2 separate regions of the Homo sapiens genome follow, and region 2 is linked to region 1. Evidence: fine-mapped expression QTL. Tissue or cell type: whole blood. Region 1 holds a variant in brackets; the other region holds the start of a gene. All regions are shown on one strand. Distances are from middle to middle.

Region 1 (2,677 bases):
GCCCAGGTCTGGAGAGAAGGCAATGGAGATGTGAAGTGGAGGCCAGGTGTGGTGGCTACGCCTATAATCCCAGCACTTTGGGAGTCCGAGGTGGGCGGATCACCTGAGGCTAGGAATTTGAGACCAGCCTGGACAGCATGCTGAAACCCTGCCTCTACTAAAAATACAAAAATTAGCCAGGTGTGGAGGCATGCACCTGCAGTCCCAGCTACTCGGGAGGCTAAGGCACAAGAATTGCTTGAACCCGGGAGGCGGAGGTTGCAGTGAGCAGAGATCGCGCCACTGCACTCCAGCCTGGGTCACAGAATGAGACTCTGTCTCAAAAAAAAAAAAAAAAAAAAAAAGAAATTGAAGTGGAAAATGAGCTGGCAGGGGTGGTCAGGCAGGGGGTGAGCAATGAGGGCTCCTGAGCTGAGGAAGCAGGGGCGGGGGGAGGATGGGGGCTAGGGAGTCCTCAGAAGTTCCCGGAGATACTCCCTCACTGGACAGAGTGGGGTTCCCGATGACGTTACTTGAGGCCTGGGAGACGGCCTCTGCCCCTCACTGCTCCTCCCCCTCCTAAGGTCAACATTTATGTGTCCTAGACCTAGAGAGGTCCCAGGACACGCCACTGTCCCGCCTTCCCCATTGCCCGCCCCACTGGCCAGTCCCCACGCCCACACACCCAAGGCTGCCCCATCTGGCGCTGATTATCCTGCTGCTGCCGCCACCGCTGCTGCTGCTCTGCAAAATTCAGCTGCTGCCTCTGTCTTGAGGACCCCAGCGCCTTTCCCCCGGGGCCATGCTGCCTGCAGCCACAGCCTCCCTCCTGGGGCCCCTCCTCACTGCCTGCGCCCTGCTGCCTTTTGCCCAGGGCCAGACCCCCAACTACACCAGGTAGGTCTCTTGGCATCTTCCAGACAGCTCCAGTGAACTTCAGACCCCCGATTCCTTTGGGGTTATGCCTGGAGATATTTTGGGTTCCCTTGCTGACACACCACTCCCCAGATTCCCCACCGCCTCACCCTTCTCTGGCCCCCAAATCCTCCCCATCTGCTGCAAGACCTTGGTCTCCTGCAGGCCACCACTGCTCCCATTCCCCCACCTTCGTCCTCTGGTCTCTTAAGTCTCCCCACCCACCCAGATCCTTGACCCCCCATAGAACCCAAGAGAGAGCCAAGCTCCTGAACTTGCCTGGTAGCTGGATTCCAGGAAGGAATTCGAGAGGGATTGTAGGGGGAGGAGGGGGCAGTGAGTGGAGACTTGGGAGTCAGAATCTGAAGTAGTTTGGAACAGGGGCAGGGCTAAGGTGTGGAGCTCGCGGAGCCTGGCCTCCAGGTTCAATCAGAGGGCCATCGCCACTGCAGCTCCCTCCATCTCTCCACCCCCTCCCCCCCACCGCCTCGTGGCTGTGTCCACATCTGGAAGTAGTTAGGCGGCTCCTGTCCCTGGACTGCCAGGCAGAGTGAGGCGGGAGTCTGGAAGGGGGGCCGAGGAGGATTCCGGGAATTCCTGTTGGGGTGGGGGTGGGGACTCTTGGGGTTGGAGGGATGGTCGAGTTGCCAGGCCCACTTTTCCCTTATCTTTGTGGGAGTCTGGGACACCCCAGCCCTGTCCTGGCTGGTGGAAGCTGCCCCAGGTCTCTCA[A/G]GGCCTTTCCATTTCATCCCCCAGCTTCCCTCCTTGGAGTTTCATCCTCATCACCTCATCCCCATCTTGCCAGTGCTCCCCCGTCCCACCCGTCCCTGCTCTTTCCTGACCCCTTTTCTGTTCTCCAGACCCGTGTTCCTGTGCGGAGGGGATGTGAAGGGGGAATCAGGTTACGTGGCAAGTGAGGGGTTCCCCAACCTCTACCCCCCTAATAAGGAGTGCATCTGGACCATAACGGTGAGAAACCCCTCTGGGCACTACCCCTTGTTAAAGTCTCAGAGGCAAAAAGGCCTGACTGCGAAGGGACCCCCCCCCCGTCCCCCCCGCACCACCTTCTCAACCTGGGGCAGCTCCAAGTGTCTTCCCTCTGTCACTGAAGGCATCATTCCCACCGTAACACGCATCATCTTAACCCTTCCCTCAAATCTTCATTCTCCAGTCCCCGGCCCTCCCTCCTCTTCCAAAGCCTCAGCTCTTGTCCCCTGCACAGGCTACCAGCAGAGCTGCAGAGACCAGGCCCTCTGCTCTGCACTCACATGGAGGCCCCTTCCCATTCAGTCCGTTTCTGCAAGAAACGCTTGGGGCAGGGGAGCTGCCCTCTGGCTGGGTTGTGTGGGGCCTGACTCTGTGGGTCCCCGCCTCTGTCCCCGCTATCAGGTCCCCGAGGGCCAGACTGTGTCCCTCTCATTCCGAGTCTTCGACCTGGAGCTGCACCCCGCCTGCCGCTACGATGCTCTGGAGGTCTTCGCTGGGTCTGGGACTTCCGGCCAGCGGCTCGGACGCTTTTGTGGGACCTTCCGGCCTGCGCCCCTAGTCGCCCCCGGCAACCAGGTGACCCTGAGGATGACGACGGATGAGGGCACAGGAGGACGAGGCTTCCTGCTCTGGTACAGCGGGCGGGCCACCTCGGGCACTGGTGAGAACTCCCTCACCTCCGCCTTCCCCCCCTCCAGGCCCCGCCCCGGCCGCAGCCCCGCCCCCAGCCCTAACCTCCGCCCCGCCCACCCCGCGCCCCAGTGCCTAGGGCCCCCTACCTCCCTGACCCATTTTC
Region 2 (2,677 bases), 430 kb before region 1:
CAGCGTCCTGGCAGGAGAGAGAGGGCCCATGTGGCACAGGGAAGGGTGAGGTGACAGAGAGATGGAGCCAGGGCCAGGAAGAGGGGCAGAGACAGCTGGAGACAGCCGTGCAGCTGCGGAAGGCACTGGTTGGAGATCGGGGGGTCATTCCCCAGGCCTGCTCACAGTCTTGGTTGAGTCTGCCCCCTGAGTTAGCAGATTTTTGCCTCTGTCAGCGTCTAGAAGGGAAATGAGGGGGGAAGAAGGGAAGTCTAAGGAGAGAGGCAGAGGCAGCCTTCTCTCCTGCTGCAGCTGAGACCTCCTTCAGGGAAGGGGAGTGGCTGGGGATGTTGTCTATACCCAGACTCTCCTAGGTGGCCCCACAACTACTGTCTCTGCTCTATCACTTTCTTATCTCCAGTTCCTCCCGCTCCCCACCTACAGTTGTCCCTGAGCCTTGGGGATTTATAAGGGAAGGAGAGAAAAAGCCCCAGCTCGTGAATGAAACAGCCAGCAAGAGAGAGAGAGATCAGATCAATCAGCTCATTAACACAGTCAGGTCAGACCATGGTCGGGAACCTGGTTTCCTCCAGAGCCCCTCTGGCTGTCACAGATGGGGATAAAGAGCCCTATCCCAGGACCAGGAAGGGAAGCCATACAGTGGGAATGAGGATCAGACAGGACACAGGTGTATGAACCCAGGCAGGAGGAAGGGAGGTTGGACTTCCAGGAGTGGCATTGCAATGGGTAAGAGCCATTGGGTTATAAATTCCCGCGCCTCTTTTTTCTCTGTCTCAGCACGGGGCAGACCCCCATGTATGACAGGGGCTGGGGGAGACGTGTGGCTACTTATAAAGCCCAGATCCCTGGACTTACCCACCATTCCACTTTCCAACCTTATCAGTGCACCCGGAGGAGACTGAAAGGGTGGGGCTGGAGAGGGAGACAGAAAGAGAGAGAGACACACACACACACACACACACACACAGAGAAACAGAGAGAGAGAGACAGAGGGACAGAGAGACTATGACACAAAGATAAGGAGAAAGGCGCAAACACTAACTGCAGAGTTCCTTCTGAAGCCCGAGCTTCCTAATCAACCGGGAGTCCAGCCCCGCCCCTTCAGATTACAACTCGCGATCAGGGACCACGGCCCCTCCAACAAGCCCCGACAGCTCCCTGCTCCGATGAGCCAGGGGTAACCCCAAGCAGAGAGAAGCCACACTTTTACTCCCGGAGACCTGCCCTCTCTGGCATCACTCCCCAATTCCCTCCCTGATCACAGCCCCTGGGGTCTAGCCGCGTCTCCCCTATCCAGAGTTCTTCATTTCCTTCCATCCATCTCTCCCTTCCCATGATTGGAGATCCCAGCCCTCTGTCCCCTCCAGCTTTGGTGACTGCCCAGTTGCCCCCGCTGGGGTTCCATGAACCCCTCATGTCTCCTCCCATAAATTAGAGGGTCCCTCCACTGGTCCTATCCTTGGTTTCACTTCCCACTCACCAGGCCACAAGGGGAGCAGCAAGGGAAATCGGGCCGGGCCCTCCCGCCCATCCCAGCCACCGCCCGACTCTTGGCTCAGCTCAACTTTCCCCAAGAACTTTCTCAGCGCCCAGGCTCCTCCCTCCTCCCTTTGTGCCGCCAGCCCCAGCAGCTGCTGCAGCTTTGATCGCGGTTCTAGGTCTCTCCCTCGCTGCATCTTCCCCTCTTCGGCAGGGCACCCAGACTCCTCTTGGAAGACACCACTTCCGCCCCCGCTTTCACACTTGGGAATCAATCCTACCATTTTCTCTTGGCTTGCCGCAGAACAAAAGATTCATTCAGGCGGTGGAAAGAAAGAAGGAAGGAAGGAGAAAGTGATATTTGAAAGCAGACATTGTCAAGGACGTGGCAAGGTAGCCAGAGACTGACACTCAGAGAACAAGGCCTCCCATCCTGAAGGCAGGGGGCAGTGGTGTGGTCACCTTAATAATGCTTCGTGGCCGGGTGCGGTGGCTCACGCCTGTAATCCCAGCACTTTGGGAGGCTAAGGCTGGTGGATCGCTTGAGGTCAGGAGTTTGCGATCAGCCTGGCCAACATGGTGAAACCCCGTCTCTACTAAAAATACAAAAATTAGCTGACTGTGGTGGCAGGCGCCTGTAATCCCAGCTACTCAGGAGGCTGAGGCAGGAGAATCATTTGAACTGGGGAGGCGGAGGTTGCAGTGAACTGAGATCGCGCCATTGCACTCCAGCCTCGCGACAACAGCGAGACTCTATCTCAAAAAAAAAAAAAAAAAAGCCTCATGTTCAAAGAGCATTTTGCAGGTGACAAGGTGCTTTTTCACACAGATTCTATTTGGTCCCCACAATTCTCCCTGTTGTACAAACGAAGATGCTCAGAGGCCCAGAGGGTGGGCAATTTGGAGATCAGAGGTTATTGTCTAGGCCCGCCTCCTGGGGGACAGGTGCCAAGGGAAGTGAAAAGCCGGCAGAAAATGAGCCAGTCACAGAGGCTCTGAGACCTCTGCTAGGAGCCAGGGCTCAGGCACTGATGGTGACAGCACAGAAGCCACACATGGGGTCCAATACATTACCATTTATTTGCAGAATAAACATGGACTCAAACACTGAAACATGGAGTTTGTGAAGGATGTGGGTGGCAGAGGTCACGAGATGAGCACCCCCCCACCTTGTTTTTTTTAAAATTTGGTTTAAGAA

What was found. PIP is the estimated chance that this variant, and not a neighbour inherited with it, causes the effect.
Region 2: GAL3ST4 starts here. The variant in region 1 is fine-mapped to the expression of GAL3ST4 in whole blood (INTERVAL, PIP above 0.99).

What each region holds. Positions count from the first base shown.
Region 1 is chr7:100,601,676-100,604,352 of GRCh38, forward strand. PCOLCE (procollagen C-endopeptidase enhancer) reads left to right here and starts at 688. Exons shown (of 9, transcript NM_002593.4): 1 at 688-876; 2 at 1,755-1,863; 3 at 2,284-2,542. The coding sequence starts at 782. It overlaps PCOLCE-AS1 (PCOLCE antisense RNA 1), which reads right to left and starts at 2,363. Exons shown (of 9, transcript NR_038910.1): 1 at 2,163-2,363; 2 at 665-1,491; 3 at 1-8. RefSeq lists an enhancer at 1,797-2,589 and a silencer at 2,597-2,677. The variant A/G (reference allele first, on the strand shown) is at 1,627.
Region 2 is chr7:100,167,066-100,169,742 of GRCh38, forward strand. It overlaps GAL3ST4 (galactose-3-O-sulfotransferase 4), which reads right to left and starts at 1,552. Exons shown (of 4, transcript NM_024637.5): 1 at 1,481-1,552; 2 at 1-218. The coding sequence starts at 30. It overlaps GPC2 (glypican 2), which reads right to left. Exons shown (of 10, transcript NM_152742.3): 10 at 2,541-2,677.